Homo sapiens: one gene and its partners. The protein of the gene in region 1 interacts with the protein of each later gene in a pairwise test. Each region holds a gene or a part of one and is shown on either strand. Other genes may lie near its edges.

Region 1 (7,137 bases):
ACCACTGAGATCCACCAAAGGAAGACAGAACTGGCCACCGGACTTGGCAAGATAGAGACAGATGTGAGAGACGAGCAGCCTTCCTAGAGAACAGGGATGAAAGGGCAACTGCTTAGAACAGGGGCAGCACAGAGGGGCAGGGGCAGCAAGAAGGGGGTCTGGACAGAGAGAGCTTATTTTTCAGAAGGGGGACAAAGCCTCTGCAGGCCAAGGAGAATGAACCAGCAGAGGGGGAGAAATTCTGCAGCAAAGAGATGGCTGCAGGACCATGCAAGAAACAACAGGACCTGAAATACAAACGGAGAGAGGCAGGATGAGGAGCACAAACCCCTCTGCCTTTGCTGGATGGGACACAACTACAGGTGCAGGAAGCTGACAGGCTGGAGGACAGGGTGGTGACAGACAAGCCAGTCTTCTGACGCCCAGACTTTCACAGGGAAGAATGGGGTCAAGGCAGTAGCTGAAAGGGAAAGTCAGGGGGAGGCAGCTGTAGCAGGACTGCTGGGCAGCACTGACTGTCCATTGAAGATGTGAAGTGAGAAGTTTAAAGTGAAACCGGCCGCCAAGGTGGTGTCACTCTTTCAAAACTGTTCAGTTGCCGGGTGCGGCTGGGTCAGCCACTGGATACAGTAGGCATTAAGGAGGTAGCAGGGCTCAAGCAGTGGGAGGTTCTGCTGCTCCTCCTCTGAAGCCATTACCAGAGCTCCAGTACTTCATTCAGTTTATTCATTCCTAGAATACAGACTGAACTTAAAGGGATGATGACAATTATTATTTTTTATTTCAGAGGCAGTCTTGCTCTGTCACCCAGGCCGGAGTGCAGTGGAGCAATCATGGCTCACTGCAGCTTCAAACTCCTGGCCTAAAGTGATCCTCTTGCTTTGGCCTCCCAAGTGTTGTGATTACAGGTGTTAGCCACTGTGTCTAGCCAATGAAGAATGTTATCCAGTAGCCAATAGCAGAAAGAACCACCATTTAAGCAAGAATTTATTTCCAGGACTATGTTTTTACTATAGATTAAAATTTAATATAACTTAATTCACATATAAAGACAACTCTGAAGACCATCTGGATATGATAATGGCCTGGGGTTAAGTGAAATAATTGAGGTCATGCTCAGGCCTGAGCAGATACCAACTTGCTCAAGCCTGAGAAATAGGACTTCTCTCTTTCACTCATCACTTCAAAATGCAGTGGCCTCCTGCAGAAGTTGCACTCAGCTGAGGAATGAGGCTTCAGTTCCAGCCCCACTTGCTTCCATGTGACTAGCAGATTCTCTGAGGAGAAACAGTTTTTAAATATTAAAGGGAGTAATATACACAAGAGAAATGAAAACATATGTCCACACAAAAACTTGTACACAAATGTTCATAGCAGCATTATTCATAATAGTTAACAAGAGAAACAACCAAATGTCCACCAATAGACGGATAAACAAAATGTGGTAAATCTGTACAATGGAAGGTTATTTGGTAACAGAAAGAAATGAAGTGCTGATGAATGCTACAGCATGGATGAGCCTTGCAGACATGATGCTGGAAGAAGGCAGACACAAAGGAGCACAGGCGGTATGATTCCACTTAGACACAAGGTCCAGAAAAGGCAAATCCATAGAGACAGAAAGAGCCGTGGTTGACAGGGGCTGGGGATGGGGAAAAGAGGAGTGACTCCTAATGGGTAGGGGCTTCTGAGGTGATGAAAATGTTCTAGAATCAGATAGAAGTGATGGTTGCATAACACTGGGAGTGTACTTAAAAATCATAGACTTGGATACTTTAAAAGGGTGAATTTTATGGTAAGTGAGCTATATCTCTACTGAGATAAGGCTTTTATAAAAATTTTAAGGCTTTTATAAAAATAAATAAAGAGAAAAATAAAACCCAGAGTTGGGCTTGATTTCACAGGCCTGTAGGGAAGAAGCTGCTCCAACACTGCCACGTGACAGTTTAAACCCAGCATTTCCAACAGAACAGAGAGCCTGTGAGGAAGCTGAGCCACGCTGGGCGGGCTTGGGAAGGCAATGTACCTTCGAGGCAGAGGTGACCTGTGGCTAATAGCCCCCTTCCATCTCTGCCTTTAGGTTGGACATGGGTGGAGCAGTATAGAACCACGGGGCAGTTGAAAATATTGAGCAATTCCTCTTATCAGAGGCGATTAGGTGTGGGGTTATTCAAGGATTATACAACATCATGGAGTAGAGGGCAGTGGTGAAGACAAATGTGAGGTGGACTCCGGAGGGACAGCGGGGACTCAAGCCTTCAGAGGCCTCTTCTCCCTGCAAGTCATTACTGTGCATCCTTCAGCCACGTAGACAAGGGGGCACTGGAAACACTGAGCGGATTCCCAGGCTCCCTCAGAGCTCCCAAAATGACTCTCCACCCTCTTGATGTGAATCAGACAATAAATACCTTTTAGGGTTTTGAACCATTTGAGGGCATGCTTAGTTACTTGGAAAAAGAAGAAACAGGCCGGGCACCAGGGCTCACACCTGTAATCCCAGCACTTTGGAAGGCTGAGGTGGGTGGATCACCTGAGGTCGGGAGTTCGAGACCAGCCTGACCAACATGGAGAAACCCCATCTCTACTAAAAATACAAAATCAGCCAGGCGTGGTGGCGCATGGCTGTAATCCCAGCTACTCAGGAAGCTGAGGCAGGAGAATCGCTTGAACCTGGGAGGCAGGGGTTGCGGTGAGCCGAGATTGTGCCATTGTACTCCAGCCTGGGCAACAAGAGCGAAACTCTTGTCTCAAAAAAAAAACTAAAAAAAGAAGAAGAAACAAATCTGAATGCCTCTGAAGGGCTTCAATTATAAACACTGCAAAGACAGCTTTATGCAACTCCTCAGTGAGGCACCAGCAGCTCCCCAGGTACTCACCAAGGAAGTAGTTCATCATCTGGGGTGTGTGGTGAGGGGTGGGGGCAATCCGTAGGAGCTCTTCTCCCCGGGGCACCGTAGGGTAATTGATTGCTTGCACGTAGATGTTATGTCTGCTCATTAGTTCATCACAGACTTCTGTGTTTTTAGCAGCATCTGCAACCTAAGTTCAATGAGAGCAGAAGGTAAGGTCACAACAGGAAGGACTACCTCTTAGCAGAGATCCTAACGAACGCAGTCCCCACAACGCTCAGGCTCAAGACCAGACTGTAGCAACACATGCAAGCTTGGGGCAGAGGGAAAGCGCTGCCCAAACACCTGTCATTTAAAAGAAGCCAGTGTTGTTTCGTGAACACCAGGGAACCAAAACCTTATTAAAAAGAAATACATTTTTAATCAGAAAACACTGGTTCTGTTCGTACCAGCAGACTCTCATACCCACGATGTATAATCTAGATTCAGTTATACTAGCTGTATTCATTACACTAATTCAACTGTGACATCAACAGTGCTACCATTTGTAGTGGGAAGGGCAAAACCTATTTTGAAATTTACTAAGTAGAAAGCCATACTTCAAAGCTGGCCAAGCTCAGGCTTCTGGAGCTTTCTAGATACAAGCTCTGTGTTTACCCTGTTAAGGTCAGTGCTCCGGAGAGGGAACTTCTGCCCCAGCCTGCTGGGTTCAAAGGCTTTCTTCTCTTGGTGAAGTCAGCCAATGGCGGAAACATGACAGAGGGTGGCTGGCTACAACCCCTGCCCTGGCAGTCACCCCGCTCAAGCCCAACTTCAGGAAGGTATGAAGCAGAACATCCGTACATCATGTGTAGAGGCACACCCCACGGCAAGTCCAATCAGAGACAGGCCATTACCCGCACAGGGATGATGTGGCTGGGGCAGTGGACAACAGGGAGGCCGGCATCCATTAGCATCTGTCTCATGAGTTTGACGTTGCGCTGGTGCTGGCGGCGAAGCACCCGTCCCTCAGCGCTCTTCAGGATCCGCACAGACTCCAGGGCTCCAGCCAGCAGCATGGGTGGCAGAGAGGTGGTGAAGATGAAGCCAGCAGCATAGGACCGTACGGTGTCAATCAGAGAACTCGTGCTGGCGATGTACCCTCCAACACAACCAAAGGCTTTGCCTGGGAGGAGATAGCTTCATTAATTACAGCAACAGCTGTAAATTGCTCTAAATGGACACAGCAAGGTGTTGTGGAGCCTCAAAGCACTGACTTTTCTCCTTATCTTTTTAATTTGTTCCTGGACTGATTGGAGTAGTCATGCACCACATTAATGATGTCTCAGTCAATGACGACCACATATATGATGGTGGTCCCATAAGATTATAATACTGTATTTTTACTGTACCTTTTCTATGTTTAGGTATGTTTAGATACACAAATACCATGGTGTTGCCAACAGTATCCAATACAGTAACATGTTGTACAGGTTTGCAGCCTAGGAGCAACACGCCATACCACAAAGCCTAGGTGTGCGGTAGGCTATATAATCTAGGTTTATGTAAGTACACTCTATGGTGTTTGCACAATGATGAAATCGCCTAGTGATGCAATTCTCAGAACACATCCCCCATCGTTAAGCAATGCATGACTATAAAAGGATATCTAATCTTCCTTTTTTTTTTAGAGACAGGGTCTTGCTCTGTCACCCAGGCTGGAGTGCAGTGGCATGATCATAGCTCTCTGCAGCCTCAACCTCCTGGGCTCAAGTATTCCTTCCGCCTCAGCCTCCCAAGTAGCTAGGACAGGTGTACACCACCATGCCTGGCTGATTTTTTAAATTTTTATTTTGTGTAGAGAGGAGGCCATGCTTCGTTGCCCAGGGCTGGTCTCAAACTCCTGGGTTCAAGTGATCCTCCTGTCTCAGCCTCCCAAAGTGCTGGGATTCAGGTGTGAGCTATCGTGCCTGGCTACTCACTTTTAAAAGGGTAAAAAAGCTAAGGAAAGTTACAAAAGGGTCTTGCCCAAAGTCATATGGCCAAGCTGGTGTCTAACCAGGATCAAAATGCAGGTCTTCCAATCAGACCTGACACCTCAGTGACTGGTCCCAGTGTGCCCAAATACCCTGCTGCTGCCTCCCTTCCCACCATCTTATTCTCCTTTCCCTTTCTCACCCAGGCTTGCTGCTCTGACAGCCAGCACAGCTCCACTCCCCATGTCTGCACTGCATGTGCTCTTTGGAACAAGACTGGCTCTGCAGTGCTTGTACCATCCTCCCACAGGGAACATTATCCCAGAGGCTGGAATTTTACCCAGCTAAGGCATTAACTGTTTTGGTATGACTGGTGTTATTTCCTACTTAAGAACAAAACTCTTGACAATTAATGCATTAGGATTGATTTAGGGCCAGACTTGGTTTTCAATTCTCATTGAGTCCTTTTGTGTGATCTACATCTCAAGTTTCAGGATTAAAAACTCCAGAAGAGGCCAGGTGCAGTGGCTCACACCTATAGTCCCAGAACTTTGGGAGGCCGAGGGGGGCAAATCACTTGAGCTCAGGAGTTAGAGACCAGCCTGGCCAACATGGTGAAACCCCGTTTCTACTAAAAATACAAAAATTAGCCAGGCATGCTAGCGCACACCTGTAGTCTCAGTTATTCAGGAGGTTGAGGTGGGAGGATCACTTGAGCCCAGGAGGTGGAGGCTGCAGATGAGCTGTGATCACACCTGGGCACAGAGTGAGAGCCTGTCTCAAAAAACAAAAAGAACTCCAGAAGAGTCTTCATAGATCTTAACATAACATTCTATAATTAATGTTTTTGCTAAAACCACATGCAAAGCTGGGTTGGTTCAATCTCCTATGGTATAAAGTTTCTCTCTCCAGCCTTTTCCATCTCACAATGACCATACCTTCAAAGAGCCCACATCAGGAGACATCCTTAAAAGAAAAGAGCTTCTGGCCGGGTGTGGTGGCTCACGCCTGTAATCCCAGCACTTTGGGAGGCTGAGGCGGGCAGATCACGTGGTCAGGAGATTGAGAACATTCTGGCTAACACGGTGAAACCCCGTCTCTACTACAAATACAAAAAATTAGCCAGGCATGGTGGCGGGTGCCTGTAGTCCCAGCTACTTGGGAGGCTGAGGCAGTAGAATGGCATGAACCTGGGAGGTGGAGCTTGCAGTGAGCTGAGATCGCGCCACTGCACTCCAGCCTGGGCAACAGAGTGACACTCCATCTCGGAAAAAAAAGAAAAAAAAGAAAAGAGCTTCTTGAATTAAGACACATGATCAGGTGTTTTTCTCCTGGTAGTGGTTCCACCCTTAGAACTCCCAGGCTTTCTGGGTCTGCACTAGGTTCTCATACCCCTTGACAGTGCTGAAGGACGCTTTTTAAAAAGCCTGCCCTTCCTTTACCAAGCATAGGCTATAAACTGGCATTTTAGCTAACTGCTAGATGGGTTTCCAACTGCCTTACCCACTTCTGAAGGCTTAAAAAAATTCTTCAAAATTACAAAAATTCTTCAAATTTATGTAATTTTCGTCTCTTTAGGGTTCTCATAGGTTCTCAGAGGGAATGTTTATAATAACTGTTTGCATACAACTTATTTACCTTCTCCACATATATTTTGATTTAGGTCCTATTGTTTTCTCCATTATATTGATGATGAAACTGAGGTATAGAAAGGTTAACTACCAACTCAAGGTCACACAACTAGTGAGGTGGCAGGGCTCCAAAGTCTAGCTCCCATCTACCACGAGACATAGCCTCTGTATGAGGAAGAGCAGAGGAAAACCAGGATGAATTAGAATGTTCCCACGTGGCAGGCACGGAGTTCAGCACTTCACAACACCTGAACCTAACAAGTGCTCCAGGAGAAAAGTACTAGAATTCCTTTTTCTTTTTAATTAAGAACAGCCTGAGGCACAGAGAGTACAGGCTCTTGCCATGGCATGGGGCTAGACCCACAACTATGTCTGAAATGAGCTCAGATAGCAATAAATGGTCTATCAGTGTGTTAGGCTGTGGGATTTACTTTGATTCTAAGAGCCATGCCTCCATGACCCAAGGGATTCCACTAAGCTGGGCCAAAAGAAAGAGTGGCCCAGGCTTCATATGCTGTCAGGCTGTCTCCTCACCTGATCCCAGTTAGACTAGTTAGTCCTTGGCCTTGTTAGGATAATGGAATTTTAGTGTATGTAATACAATGTATACATACCAAGTGTTCCAGAAATGATGTCCATTTTTGGCATGACTCCATCCCGATCCCCAATCCCTCCGCCTCGAGCCCCATAAAGCCCCACTGC
Region 2 (7,469 bases), on another chromosome or scaffold:
AAAGGGATGCTTCTGCCGGAGCCCAGATGGAGTCCTGCCGCAGCGCATGGCCCTCCGTAACGGCATCCTGACCCAGAGCTGAAAGCCGGCAGGGCGCCTTGCACACAGTCAGGGTGGTGCTGTGCTGAGGGATGGGCTCAGGTAGGCCTGAATGCCATCTCTGCCAGGATGTGCTGTGTGACCTGGGTGAGGGGTAGAACCTCTCTGAGCCTCAGCTCTTTACCTGTAACGTGTGGGTGACAACAGTGCCCACTTTGTGAGACTTCTATGAGGACTAAGTTGTGACCACTTAAATGGTGCTCAGTGAATTTTAGTCATTGTGCATGTTATCACTCCCCAAAAAGAGAGGTGTCCAGGCAGTGCTGAGCTTCTCAAGCAGGAGCCAAAGGCCCAGCAGACTTCATCCTGGGACGGGACAGCAGGCAGGGGGTAGAGGGCGGAAGTTGTCCCCACATGACTGCCACTCCGTCCATGGTGCTCATTTCAGGCAGCACAAGAGGTGACCCAGCCAGGTCCAGCTCTGCCTGCAGGCCTGGCATGAAAGCCCAGGCTGTGGGCCATCTGGGGCAGGAGGCTGGAGGGCAGGAGCCATCAGCCCGGGGCTGAGGTGTACGCGTGGCTGCACTCTGTCTTGGTCTCATTATTTTATAAAATAGAAAAATGTGATTGGTTTCAAAAGGGTTCTCTAGATTTAAAAAAAATTTTTAATCAAACTTTTTACTTTAATAAAAGTGAAATTTTGCCTGTGGTTTGGGGAAATGAAACCCTGTGTCATTTTGGGTGCAACGCGGAGGCCCTGCAGCAAGGTTGCCTGGGTTCAAATCTCCCCTCCGCCGGGTGCAGTGGCTCATGCCTATAATCACAGCACTTTCGGAGCCTGAGGTGGGACGACTGCTTGAGCCCGGGAGGTCGAGGGTGCAGTAAGCCATGACTGCACCACTGCACTCCAGCCTGGGTGACAGAGTGAGACCCTGTACCCACCCTCCCCCACAAAAAAAAGAATTCCCCTCCACCATTTACTAGCTGTGTGGCCTGTGCAAGTGGCTCGGCCCCTGAACCTCAGTCTGTCCATCTGTGAAGTGGGGTTAAATGTCAGCAGGTTGCTGGGAGGCTCCACTGTCCTCACACGTGTGAAGGGCTTAGGAGTGAGAGCCTGGTCCGTGAGACCTGCCAACCAGTGCTCAGCTGCCATTGCGATTTTCCACTCTGGTTTTGGCGTCAAAGTCAGGCCTGGTGGGTCATGGCCTTGGGTGTCCCCTGGGCAGCTCAGATGGCTTACCTGCTGGGCATAGCCTCGGAACATTGGGTTGACCAACTTGATCCCATGAGACAGACTGGTGGGGACCACGTAGCTTGGCCTGTAGGAAGCCCAAACCCATTAGTCCAGGTAGCCTGCCTTGAGCTGCTCATTCCCGAGAGAAGCAGGCAGCCAGCCCGTCAGGCTGGATCAGAGTGTGGCGTTTCCTGACATTTGGGGAGGGGCCTACTCAGCCAGGAGCCCCAAGAGGCTCACACATCTCTACAGACAAGAAGAAAATGTCAAGTCATAGCTGCCTCAATTAAGCAAAGAGCTCAAATAAAATAGCATCATTTCCTTCTGGTGCACAACAAACTCGCCTAAACATGATTTGTTTTCATTCTGAAACACTTACTGTGGTTTTCTCATTTCAAAAGTAAGACATGTTCATTATTGACAAATCTAAAATTTCAGAAAAGTACAAGAGAAAAACACCACCACCAATGGCACCAGATACTTACCATTAGATTTCTGGTTCTGTGAAACTACAGATGCATATACAAAAATACATACAGATACACATTTAAACTTGGCTTCTTACACAAGCGGAATTATATTGTACCATGCTGGGTTTTTTTTTTTTTTTTTTTGGGACAGAGTCTTGCTCTGTTTCCCAGGCTAGAGTGCAGTGGCATGATCTTGGCTTGCTGCAACCTCCGCCTCCCGAGTTCAAGTGATTCTCCTGTCTCAGCCTCCCAAAGTGCTGGGAATACAGGTGCGCGCCACCATGCCCAGCTAATTTTTGTATTTTTAGTAGAGACGGGGTTTCACCACATTGGCCAGGCTGGTCTCGAACTCCTGACCTTGCGATCCACCCGCCTCGGCCTCCCAAAGTACTGGGATTACAGGAGTGAGCCACTGCACACAGACTTTTTTTTTTTTTTTTTTTTTTTTGAGACAGGGTCTCACTCTGTCGCCCAGGCTGAAGTGCAATGGCATGATCAAGCTCACTGCAGCCTGCCTCAACTTCCTGGACTCAAGCGATCCTCCCACCTCAGCCTCCTGAGTAGCTGGGACCACAAGTGCTCACACCACACTCAGCTAATTTTGTAGTTTTTGTAGAGGCGGGGTCTTGCTGTGTTGTCCAGGCCGGTCTCAAACTCCTAGGCTCAAATGATTCTCCTGCCTCGGCCTCCCAAAGTGCTGGATTTACAGGTGTCAGTGACTGCATCTGGCCCCACGCTGGTTTTTAATCTGCTTCTACATTTAATACATATTTCTCCCATGCTGGTTTGTTTTGTTTTTGTTTTTTTTTTTTTGAGACAGAGTCTCGCTTTGTCAACAGGCTGGAGTGCAGTGGTGCGATCTCGGCTCACTGCCACCTCCGCCTCCCAGGTTCAAGTGATTCTCCTGCCTCAGCCTCCCGAGTAGCTGGGACTACAGGCACACGCCACCACACCCAGCTAATTTTTGTATTTTTATTAGACACGGGGTTTCACCATGTTGGCCAGAACGGTCTCGATCTCTTGACCTCGTGATCCACCTGCCTCAGCCTCTCAAAGTGCAGGGATTACAGGCGTGAGCCACTGCGCCTGGCCCTACGCTGGTTTTTCATCCGCTTCTACACATAATACATATTTCTATGTGCTCATTTAAAATTATTCCCAACTTTGACTTTTCCTGGAGAAACAGATCTAATCACAGACTCTGATCTTTAAATTAATTTCATACTGTGCCAGAAGCTCCATCCAGTCTGTGCTCCCCTGCCCCACACCTCCTTCTACACACACAGTCCTGGCTGAGGCCGGGTCACCATGTCTCTTGGCAAAGACATCTACCAGTGGCTGCTCGGTAGGGTCAACAGTAGGTCAAATTCTAGCTCACTTTTTGCAGGTTCTATGACCTTGAGCAAGATACTTAAAGTGCTCTGCACCTCAGTTTCCCTATTTGTAAAACAGGACTGGATGCAATTTCCACCCCGCAGGCTTGCTGCAAGCATTACCCGGGACAAAGTGAGGCAAGTCCTCGCTGGGGGCTGAATCCACAGGAAGTACTCAATCATGGGTGCTGACAGGAAACCCCAGTCCCCACACACCGCCCAAGGCTAGGGATGCAGCTGCTCACCGTTTCTTATGCCAGACCTCAGAGACCAGCTTCTGGTAGCTCTTGCACAGGGCTGGCTTCTTATCTGTGCGCACCAGGCCGCCACACTCCAAGAAGAACTGAGTCAGCGGCGGGCTGGGTGCAGGGGAGAGAGAGCCAGGTCAGGAGAGCAAATGAGGCATGCGGCAGTTTAGAAAGGGCTGCATAGCGGGGAGCCCTGAGTGCTCGCACAGGGAGCACAGTGGCCCTGGACCCAGAAACTCCTGAAGGTGACTAGAAGGCTCCTACCAGTTATGAGAAAATTGTATCCTCCAAAATTCATCTGCGAAGCCCTAACTCCCAGAGACAGGGCATTTTTATTTTATCTCATCTTATCTATCTTACCTTATTTTTTTATTATTATTATTATTATTTTGAAACAGAGTCTCCCTCTGTTGCCCAGGCTGGAGTCCAGTGGTGCAATCTTGGTTCATTGCAACCTCTGCCTCCCGGGTTCAAGTGCTTCTCCTGCCTTAGCCTCCCGAGTAGCTGGGATTACAGGCACATGCCACAATGCCTGGCTAATTTTTTTGTATTTTTAGTAGAGACAGGCTCTACTAGTTGGCCAGGCTGGTCTTGAACTCCTGACCTCAGGCGATCCACTTGCCTTGACCTCCCAAAGTGCTGGGATTACAGGCGTAAGCCACGGTGCCCAGCCAAGACAGGGCCTTTAAAGAGGTTATTAAAGTTAAAACGGATTGGGTGCGGTCAATTTTTCTTTTTTTTTTTGAGACGGAGTCTCGCTCTGTCACCCAGGCTGGAATGCAATGGCATGATCTCAGCTCACTGCAACCTCCGCCTCCCGGGTTCAAGCGATTCTCCTGCCTCAGCCTCCCCAGTAGCTGGGACTACAGGTGCGTGCCACCACGTCCAGCTAGTTTTTTGTATTTTTAGTAGAGACAGGGTTTCACCATGTTAGCCAGAATGGTCTCTATCTCCTGACCTGGTGATCCATCTGCCTCGGCCTACCAAAGTGCTGGGATTACAGGCGTGGGCTACTGCGCCCAGCCTGGGTGTGGTCAATTATTAACAATAATTGACCTGCATCCTGCCACCTGAGGATAGTTACTAGGAACATTTTGGGACATAGCCTTCCAGACTTTTCTACGCATTTGTACCCATTCCCTCTCTGCTTCCCGCATACATATACTGCATCTCTAACCTCCACTGGGTAGGAGAAGCACGTCAGACACAGGAGACATCCTTGGCCTCATGGAGCTCACAGCCTTATCCTTAATGGAAAATCGCATTTCTCCCATAAAACGGGATTGTACCATGCAATGCTTTATAACCTCCTTTTTCCCCCACTCACCAGATTCTGAACCCCTTCTTGTTTCAATGCATGTTGTCTTGTGCCATTTTTCCTGCACTTGCTGCAAGGGCTATGAGAATTTATACTCTCTTGCAGATGGGCCTTTAAATCATTTCCAGTAAACAACAGAGCACTGAGCCTCCTTGCACGTACAACTTCCCCAGCATCTCCGGTTATCTCCTCAGGATACATTCTGACTGGGAGGATTGCTGGGTCAAAGGGTATACATGCTTTCAGGCATTTTGCTGTGCATCCTATACATGTGTTTGTGGGCAACCGGCTGGGGGCTGCTACTGCTGCTGTTTCCGGGGCTTTGCCAGGGACAGCTCTCGGCCCTCGGACAAAGTGTCGACCTACCAATTGGACAGGGCCTGCAGGGCAGCGTTCATGTAGCAGGAGTTCCCGAGGTTCTTCATGCCCGTGAGGCCTGGGAAATAAACACAACGGGGAGGAGCAGGTGAGCACCCTGCCCCACCGAGGAAACCTTGCAAGTCACATTTGGCACAAAGGTGTGGCTCTCAACTGCCCAAGACCCAAGAAGAGGACATGGTGGAAGCGTTCCACCCCAGGAATCTTCCCAGTAAACTAACGTGGTTCCTGCTCACAACAGCTGCGGTTACCTGAGTGTTTTAAACAGATGAACTCCTTTGCCCCTCCGCCCAGCCAGGCCCACTGTCCAGACCATACAGCAGAGGGGTCGGCCTGCCCAGGGTCACCCAGCTGGGAGAGGGGACAAGATAGCCAGCTCTCCAGAACCTTAGCTAGGCCAGCCAACTTCTGGGGTGAAGCCACCATGCTAAACAGCTTATCCGTCACCCCATCCTTCCTTGCCCATATAGCAGGTGCAAATAGAGACCAAGACTCTGGCGGTTTCCAGCCTCCAGATGAGGGCCCCCAGCCCAGCCCATCAGCTTCCCCTGCTGTGGGGGCCATTACCTCGAGGTTTCAGGTCATCGTCCTCTGACTCAGACTCTCCTTCATCAGCCACAGCAATAGGAACAGCTTTCAGAGGGTGGGAGGGTGGCGGGGAGTCCTGTGTTAAAGACCCAAAGTGAGGAAAACAGTGAACAGAGGGGCTGGGGTCAGAGGCCCAGGTGTCTCCCAAGGGCTGGAAGTCCAGCCCTACTGCCCGGAAGGCCCTACTGGGCTGAGCCAGTCCAGCTGAGCAGAAGGTACTGTGAAAAGAGATAGGATTGGTGGCCTTGCCCTGGGAACTCCTTGATTTGTGTGTGTCTGTGTTTTTTTAGAGACAGGGTCTTGCTTTGTCACCCAGGCTGGAGTGCAGTGGCACAATCAGAGCTCACTGCTGACTCCAACTTCTGGGCTCAAGGGATCCTCCCACCTCGCCCTTCTCAGTAGCTGAGACTACAGGTGCATGCACAGCACCCAGCTAACCTTTTTATATTGCCCAGGCTGGTCTCAAACTACTGGGCTCCAGTGATCCTCCCAAAGTGTTAGGATAACATGAGCCACTGTGTCCAGATGTTGACTTGCATTTTTTTATTGGCAATAAAAAAAATATTTTATTTATAATAAATTTGGAGAAAAATAGAAACATAAACATGCAACCCCATTTTCCTGAGAGAACTGCTGTTAATAGTCTGTATGTATCTTATGTAGACGTTTTTTTTTTTCTTTTTGAGACAGAGTCTCGCTCTGTTGCCCAGGCTGGAGTGCAATGGTGCAATCTTGGCTCACTGCAAGCTCCGCCTCCCAGGTTCATGCCATTCTCCTGCCTCAGCCTCCTGACTAGCTGGGACTACAGGTGCCCGCTACTATGCCTGACTAATTTTTTGTATTTTTAGTAGAGACGGGGTTTCACCGTGTTAGCCAGGATGGTCTCGATCTCCTGACCTCGTGATCTGCCCGCCTCGGCCTCCCAAAGTGCTGGGATTACAGGAATGAGCCACCGCGCCTGGGCTATGTGGACTTTTTTTAAGAGATAGAGTCTTGCTCGTCGCCCAGGCTGGAGTGCAGTAGCACAACTATAGCTCACTGCAACCTTGAACTCCCGGGCTCAAGTGATCCTCCCACCTCAGCCTCCCAAGTAGCTGGGATTACAAGCATGCGCCACCATGCCTAGCTAATTTTATTTTTTGTAGAGACAGGGTCTCACGCTGTTGCCCAGGCTGGTCTCAAACTCCTGGGCTCAAGCGATCCTCCTGCCTTGGCCCAGCAAAGGGCTGGGATTACAGGCATTAGCCATGGCGCCCAGCCTGTATTATACAGACTTTTAACTGTTAATACACATGCACAACAAAAACAAGATATTGCATATACTGTTTTATAGCCTTTTCTATAAAAATTCATAAATATCTACCAAGTTCACAAATGCATTCAATAAGCATTTTGAGCAATATTGAGCCCTATCATGTGACTGTCTAAACAGAAGGAGAGGCCAGGTGCGGTGGCTCCTGCCTGTAATCCCAGCACTTTGGGAGGCCAAGGCAGGCGGATCACTTGAGGTCAGGAGTTCAAGACCAGCCTAGTCAACATGGCAAAACCCTGACTCTACTAAAAATATGAAAATTAGCCAGGCATGGTCGTGGGCGCCTGTAATCCCAGCTACTCAGGAGGTTGAGGCAGGACAATCAGTTGAACCCAGGAGGCAGAGGTTGTAGTGAGATGAGATTGCACCACTGCATTCCAGCCTGAGCAACAGAGCGAGACTCGGTCTCAAAAAATTAAAATAAAATAAAATAAAATAAAATAAATGGAGGAGAGAGCCATGCAGATGCTGCACACATGTCCTGGCTTCTCCTCTAGCAGGCAGCTCTG
Region 3 (7,469 bases), on another chromosome or scaffold:
TCTTTACTGCAGAATTGCCATTTTTCCCTTTGTAATTAATAAGTATTTTGTGGGTAGATTCACTGAGACTATGTATATATTTAAAACTTCACTCTGCCACCTGAATCAGTTATTACTATGATGTTTGTCACATAGCCAGTCTCTGACTTCCACATTATTTCAACATTTGTTTGTTGGCATTCTATTATAAGGAAGAGCTTTTCTTTCTTCACAGCTTATTTATCATTCATTTATTCCTATCAGTATGGGTTCAGGAAATTGTATTTTTCAAATACACTACAACCTGTTATTTTCATGGAAGCTCGGATTGTTCCGTATCTGCCAGTGAGAGACCCTTCCAGCTGGCTCCTGAGTCCTCAATGCATCCCCTTACGGTTTAACCACTTCCTGGCGCTACCACTTGCTGGTAAATCATCTCGACTTTCCAGCCTTAGACTCCTTCATCTTTAAACTGAGGGGACCAGGTGAGATGATTTCCAAGGTTCCTCCCAGTTTTGAAATTGCCTTCCTACTTCGTGCTTGTCTTCTGTCTGCCCCTTACTGATGCCTATTGCTAAAGTCACTGGAACTGGTAGAATAAAGGTTGGAAAACCAATAGGGATATTTGGACCATGCCTTGTAACAAATAAGGACGTGAAGGAAGGACAAGCTGTTTCTTGTATACCTCTATCCCTACTCAGGTCCTGAGAACCAAGGCTATTATCAGGGAAGCCCAACTCAGCCTGCACCGTCCTCTTCGCTGGAAATCTGTAGTTGGGACAGATTCACTATCAAAACAGATCTACCTCTCTTTTTGTCTGTCTGGATTCCATGATGTTGTCATCATTTCCGTGTCTTTCATACACTGTAGTTGTTGTTCTCTTTCTCTCTCTCCAAAGTAGTCATTCCCTAAACTTCCTGTGTCTAGAGGCAATAAAAAGGTGATTCCCAAAAGAAGTACAAACAGCCAGTTAACACATGAAGATGCTCAGCCTCATCAATTTGGGAGAAAAATGTGGACTAAATCAAGGAGAAATGGGCTAACTGACAAACTGACAAACTAAAAACCAAACAAAAACTCCACAATTTGTACTCAGTTCAACGTAAGGGGCATTTCTGCTCACATGTGCTGCGCTGAAAGTATGAACTGGTACAACCTCTGGGAGAGGCACTTCAATAGCTACTCACAGCCTCAGAATTTTGCATATCCTTTATACAGCAATCCCATTTGTGGGAATTTGTTTTGTGGAAATGTTTATGGGTATGTGCAAAGCTATCCATACAGGATATTCAGTGAGTAAGAAATTTACAAACAGCTAAATGCCCAATAAAGAGTGGATTGAGTAATGCAGTTATGATATAGTCATATAATAAAATACTGTGCAGCCATTCAAACTTATATCATAGAAGATGACATGAGAAGTTATTCGTAAATTGTTAAAACAGCAGCTGTAAACCTGCATGTAGTTTATGAACCTATTTTTGAAAAAGAAAAAATATATAAAGATAGATTCACAAAAATAAAGAATAAAGGGATATTTATCTACCTAGATATCTCTAGGCGGTAAACTTACAGGTGATTTTTAGTTTTTATCTTTTTGCTTATCTGTATTTTGACAATGAGCATACATTATTTTTGTAGTAAGAAACGTTACTGTAGAAAAGAATATGACAGTCCACCTTCTTTCAGCACTTTATGGTGAGCATGTATTCCTTAGCTTCCTCCTGCTAGGTCACAAAAGTGACTCTCCTTTGGCCAACTGTCTGGCTGTGTATTTTTGTCAAGAAAAATGTTGTTTTAGGGTGAAGGTATTTCCAATGCATGTAGGAATTGTGTGGAAATGCAAGCCCTTTGAGCTTTGACATTGATGGGCGTGCATCCTAGGTGTATCCTGGATCTTCTTCACAACTCTGTCCTTGTTCTTACCTTTCTTCCTCTGCTTTGACCCCTTCAGCTTTCTTTCTTCAGCCATCTCTCTTGCTGTTCTGACTATCTGTTGCTGCATGACACCCCAATAACTTAGTGGCTTAAAACCAAAACAGCCATTCATTTTTCTCATGAGCCTGCGGTTTTTGCAGAGCTCAGTGGGGTTTGCTCAGCTTTGCTCCGCACAGCATCAGCTGGTCTTGAAGGGTCTGGAGAATCTGCTGCCAAAATGGTTCACTCAAACTATCAGGCCTTTCTATGTGGGTCTTCTCTCCATGGGGCCATGTTGGCTTCCTCACAGCACTGTGGTTGGATTCTGTATTAGTCTGTGGTGCTGTCCTAACAAAATTCCACAGATGCTGTGGCTTAAAGAACAGAGTTTATTTCCTCACAGTTCTGGAGGCTGGAAGTCCAAGACCAAGGTGTGAGCAGGGCTTGATTTCATTCTAAAGCCCTCTCTCCTTAGTTTGTAGATGACTGCCCTCTTGCTGTGTTCTCACATGGTCATTTCTCCATATGCATGCCCATCCCTGGTGTCTTTTCCTCTTCATATATAAGGATACCAGCTGTATTGGACTAGGGTCCACCCTAACACCTCCTTCGAACTTAAATCACCTCTTTAAAGACCTCATCTTCAAAAACAGTTACATTATAAGGTGCTGGGGATTGGGACTTAAATATATGAATTCAGGGAGGTTGGGGAGGAGACACAGTTCAGCCCATAACAGGTTTCAAGAGTGAGTACCCAAGAAGAGACAGAAAGCAAAGCCACCAGTTCCTTTAGACTGTGGCCTGAAAACTGGCACTGTATCATTTCCTCCACGTTCTATTGGCCAAACAGTCATAAAGCCCAGATTCAAAGGGAATGGGACATAGACCCCCATCTCTGAATGGAAGGAGTATCAAATAATTTTGGAGCTGAGGTTTTGTTTGTTTGTTTGTTTTGAGACGGAGTCTCGCTGTGTCGCCCAGGCTGGAATGCAGTGGCACGATATCGGCTCACTGCAAGCTCCGCCTCCCGGGTTCACACCATTCTCCTGCCCCAGCCTCCCGAGTAGCTGGGACTACGGGCGGCCGCCACCATGCCTGGCTAATTTTTTGTATTTTTAGTAGAGATGGGGTTTCACCATGTTAGCCAGGATGGTCTCGATCTCTTGACCTTGTGATTCACCCATCTCCGCCTCCCAAAGTGCTGGGATTACAGGTTTGAGCCACCACGCCCAGCCTGGAACCGTGTTTTAAAACTGCCAGCTCTGCTTTGAGGATATGGCTGCTCTGAGATCACCTGGAGCTGGGAATCCAGTTTTCTGTTCTTTTTGTCCTATCCCTGAATGAAACTGTGCTTCTTGCTGCTTTAATCAAGTCTGTAAGTCCTGCTGATCTCATTTGCTATGCTAGTGCAGATGGCTAAGGAAAGTTTTGAATTGAGAGCTAAACTATAGTATTTGACAGCCTGGGCAACATGGCAAAATCCCATCTCTACCAAAAATACAAAAAACTAGCCAGGTGTGGTGGTGCACACCTGTGGTCCCAGCTGCTCAGGAGGCTGAGGTGGGAGGATTGCTCGAGCCCCCTGGAGGTCGAGGCTACAGTGAGCTGATATCGTGCCATTGTACTCCAGCCTGGGTGACTCCAGGTGAGTGAGACCCTGTCTCATACACACACACACATACACACACACACAAAGTGTACTATTTGAAAACACTACCATTTGCCCCTGTTGTGCCTGCATATGTAGTAGCTGTTCATTGGTGGGCAGCTGGGAAACCTAGAGAATGACTAGATGTCTGCTCTACTTTTTCTATTTTTTAAATTCTATTTCTTTTTTTCACCCTTAAATGTACTATAAATTGTACTTCTTATGTTTATTGTCTGTTTCATCTTACCAGATGTACATGCTACCACCCCAAATAGATCTTTGTCTGTTTTGTTCTCTGATACATCTCAAGTGCTTAGAACAATGTTTTGCACATAGTAGTCACTCAGTATTTATCAAAGGGATATAAAAGCGCATTGATTTTGTGTTTTGTGACTCTTAAGTTGTATAACTGGTAAGCCTGTTTTCTCTTCCTAACAGTACAAACAGGCCGTCCATGAGCTTGTGCGTTGCGTAGCACTGACAAGAATTTGCTATGGAGACTCACATTGGAAACTAGCAGAGGCACATGTTAATCTGGCTCAAGGCTACCTCCAGCTGAAAGGTAAGCTCGCCTTAGACTGAGGGGGATCAGTTGGTCGATTTCTGCTGTTCTCCCCAAAATTTGATTCACACTTAATTAGAAGGATCAGGTTTTTTAATATTCTCCTTTCTAAATACCAAGAAGCCATTTCTTTTTAGAAAGAGTTGATAAGGTATATAACCTGTAAACATTCAAAGGGGAAAAATGGAAAAAATATTTTAACTTTTCTGGTTTTTTTGTTTTTGTTTTTGTTTTTATGATTTCAAAAGTAAGGTTCTTAGGAGAAAATTAATCTGTTGGGCCAGAAGACTTTGTAGGAAAAAACCCAAGGTATGGAATAGGGGCCCAGAATGGGATCCATTCACACTTTTATTGGAGAATCTCTTGACTGTAAATAACCAAAAAATTTAAAAAGACTAACCCAAATTGGCATAAACAAAAGTTTTTGGCTCATACAACTTAAAAATTCAAGGGAAAAAATTTTTAGACTTAGCCATATCCAGTGTTCAAACAATGTGACCAGGATTCAATTTTTCTCTCTCCCACTGCTTGGCTCTGTTTTTCTTGGTATTTGCTCCATTCTTTGCCAGGTTTTGCCCACATGGTGGCAACAAGACTGCCTGCAACTTTAGACTTCCCTTATAAGCATTCCCAGGAGGAAAAGAATGTCCCTCCACCAAAATCCCGGGATTTGGGAAGGGTTCTAATTGGAACAACTTGGGTTGTATACCAAAGGCAAGGAATAGTCTGATTGGCTAAACCTTTCTTTTGGCTTCATTGGATCCTGAAGGAGAAGCAGGCCTTCGCCACATCTCATGGATTGGATGTGCAGGAGCCAGGCATCCCAAAAGGGAAACAGAGGGGAGAATGCGTGCAGGGGAGGCAAAAACAATAGACACCCAGGATATGATGATGGCTTCTACTTACTGACTGTGCAGCCTAAGACAAGATGGACAAGAGCATCTCTGTGCTCAGCTTCTTCAGCTGAAAAGTGATGATGATGGTAATGGTGATGCTAACTTTCCAGGGTTGGCCCAGTGAATAAAGAAAATAATAGAAGTGGAAAACACCAAATGCCAAGCATATTCTATACCAAGCGTATTCATTATTGCCACCCAATAAATTTGGCCAAATCTGATTATAGACTGGTCCTACCTATTAGATCAAAGGCTCTTAGGGACCTTGGAGATTATCTAATTTAAACTCTGCCCTCCCACCCCATTTTGTAGATTCAGGGAAAACAATGAGTCTGAGTTAGAACAGCTTTCCCCATACCACACTGTTAATAAGTAGCTGATCTGAGACTCAGACCTAGGTTTTCAATGCCAGTTTGTCCTGCCATCTGGGGTTTCAGACGATGCTTTTCTTATACAGCCTGCTGCCTCTCTGCGTGACAGTCCTTCTTTCTCAATTTAAAGTAAAAGTAGTATCTACCATTTATTAAAGTCTCATTTGGTGCCAGGCATGTTGTTTTCCATGCATAACCTTATTCAGTCCTCACCACAGTCCTCAAAGGTGGGTATTTTTAATATCCCTGTTTACAGCTGAGAAAGCTGAGGCCAACGTTTTATAATAAGTGGTGGAGCAGGGGATCCATCCTGGGCAGTCTGACTTCAGAGCCAATGTTCTTGAACTTCACCCTATGCTGCCTCCAGTAAATTGAGTTCAGGTTCCTTCAGGGACTCGACACAGTTGAAAATACAGTCCAACATGCTTTGTGTAACATCACAAGCACAGGTGGCACTAATACATGTCTGTGCTTTTTAAAAATATGTAATAAGACAATCTTGTGTAAGAATTCCCACATGAAACACATACCCTTGATTTTCTCCATTAGAAAATATATTCTTCCTGTTTTATAGACATAGGAACAGAATTAACTTCATATTTTGACAGATTTTTTTAGAGATCTAAGATACAATTTTGTGTAACTAAGAACATAAGATGGGGGCTGTGTGTATGTGAGTGGAAGTGGTTGTCGGTGTAGGGGAGGAGGATGGGAATACAGGGACGTGCAAAGCCCTGAAGCCGTGCTAGCGATCTCAGTCCTCCCTTCCCACAGATTAACAAGCCCGTGGAGGAACACTGGAACACACTGGGGAATTCTTTCTTAGTAGTGATTTTTTTTTGCTCCACTTTGTTTCATATTAGTCTCTTACCACATAGGAAGATGAAATTGTCACACATTAATCTGTTACCTCACTGGAATTGTGTTTGTAAGTTTTTGTAGATATCAGATATGTATTATGTTAAAAAAATAACTCTCTGACATTATGATTATAGGTGGGTGAGCTGAAGATTCAGAATTTTTAGTATTTCATTAAGATTGCAGTTACACAGCCAGGATTAAAATTCATGAATATTTTATTTCCTGCTCAGAATGCTATAGTTCTTGTATTCAGTTTGTTTCTTATAATTATATGTAACATATTTTGCTTCTGCTATTGGTGAGGTTTCAAAGCTGTTCAATTCCAGCTCATTTTGTTTATTTCTAAAAAGGCCATTTGGGGGAAAATTTATCTTGGGTACTTGGTATAAAACACTTCTTTGGTTGTTACAGTCATGGCAGTGTTTCATGCTGCCCAGATACGTCTCCATGTGTCATTTGACAATATGTGAAGGAGACCTTGTTAGATTCCCAGACCATAAGGAACTGTATTCCTGTCCAGTTGAGATGATAGAGAAACTGAGACCTCTTTTTCTTTGTCCACAGGACTGTCACTGCAAGCAAAACAACATGCAGAAAAAGCCAGACAAATCCTCGCCAACTCCATTGTGCCTCCCTATAGTGAGAATACAGATGTTTTCAAGTTTTCCATTGAGCTTTTCCATACCATGGGCAGAGCTTTACTCTCCCTTCAAAAGTATCCTTTTGCCTCTAACTTTTACAAATAGAAATACTATTCACGTAACACTTACACGCCAAGTAAAAAGCTGATGCTGATGGATGACTTAGGAAGTGTGATTGGAAGTATGGGAGCCAAGGAAGTTCAGGACATGGGGTGTAGAATCTAGAACCAAGTGGAAAATTTCCTGAACACAATTCAGATTTAAGGAAGCTGCAGAGAATTTGACAAAAGCAGAGAGACTTTCAAAGGAGCTGCTACAATGTGGAAGAATTATAAAGGAAGAATGGATAGAAATTGAAGCACGGATCAGATTATCATTTGCACAGTAAGTTTCAAGTTTAGGATTTTGCATACATGATGGCGGGAGGCTCTTTGCCTGTAGAATCTGTCTCAGGTAGGAGGAGCATCTCCATGAGGCTGCGGCCATGGCTTCTCTGGAGGTCACTGTGTAAAAGTAAAAGAGGAACACAGTCATGTCAGAGCAGCCCCAACCAGGGCATCCATCAGTGACACTTTTCACTCTCTGTGGAGTGC

What was found. The genes of interacting proteins can lie anywhere in the genome.
Region 2: the proteins of ALAS1 (region 1) and USP20 interact in binary tests that used the Homo sapiens proteins (3 or more experiments, as listed by UniProt).
Region 3: the proteins of ALAS1 (region 1) and TTC23 interact in binary tests that used the Homo sapiens proteins (3 or more experiments, as listed by UniProt).

Annotation. Positions count from the first base shown.
Region 1 is NC_000003.12:52,208,160-52,215,296, reverse strand, and holds the end of ALAS1 (5-aminolevulinate synthase, non-specific, mitochondrial isoform 1 precursor), read right to left. Parts: coding exon 7,050-7,137; intron 4,015-7,049; coding exon 3,746-4,014; intron 3,040-3,745; coding exon 2,877-3,039; intron 1,289-2,876; coding exon of another isoform or gene 1,278-1,288; coding exon 1,117-1,277; 3' UTR 970-1,116; downstream 1-969.
Region 2 is NC_000009.12:129,859,192-129,866,660, reverse strand, and holds part of USP20 (ubiquitin carboxyl-terminal hydrolase 20), read right to left. Parts: intron 5,725-7,469; coding exon 5,628-5,724; intron 5,119-5,627; coding exon 5,049-5,118; intron 3,476-5,048; coding exon 3,362-3,475; intron 1,359-3,361; coding exon 1,280-1,358; intron 1-1,279.
Region 3 is NC_000015.10:99,218,379-99,225,847, reverse strand, and holds part of TTC23 (tetratricopeptide repeat protein 23), read left to right. Parts: intron 1-301; exon of another isoform or gene 302-464; intron 465-3,983; coding exon 3,984-4,107; intron 4,108-6,799; coding exon 6,800-6,950; intron 6,951-7,134; coding exon 7,135-7,260; intron 7,261-7,469. UniProt on the Homo sapiens protein: Participates positively in the ciliary Hedgehog (Hh) signaling.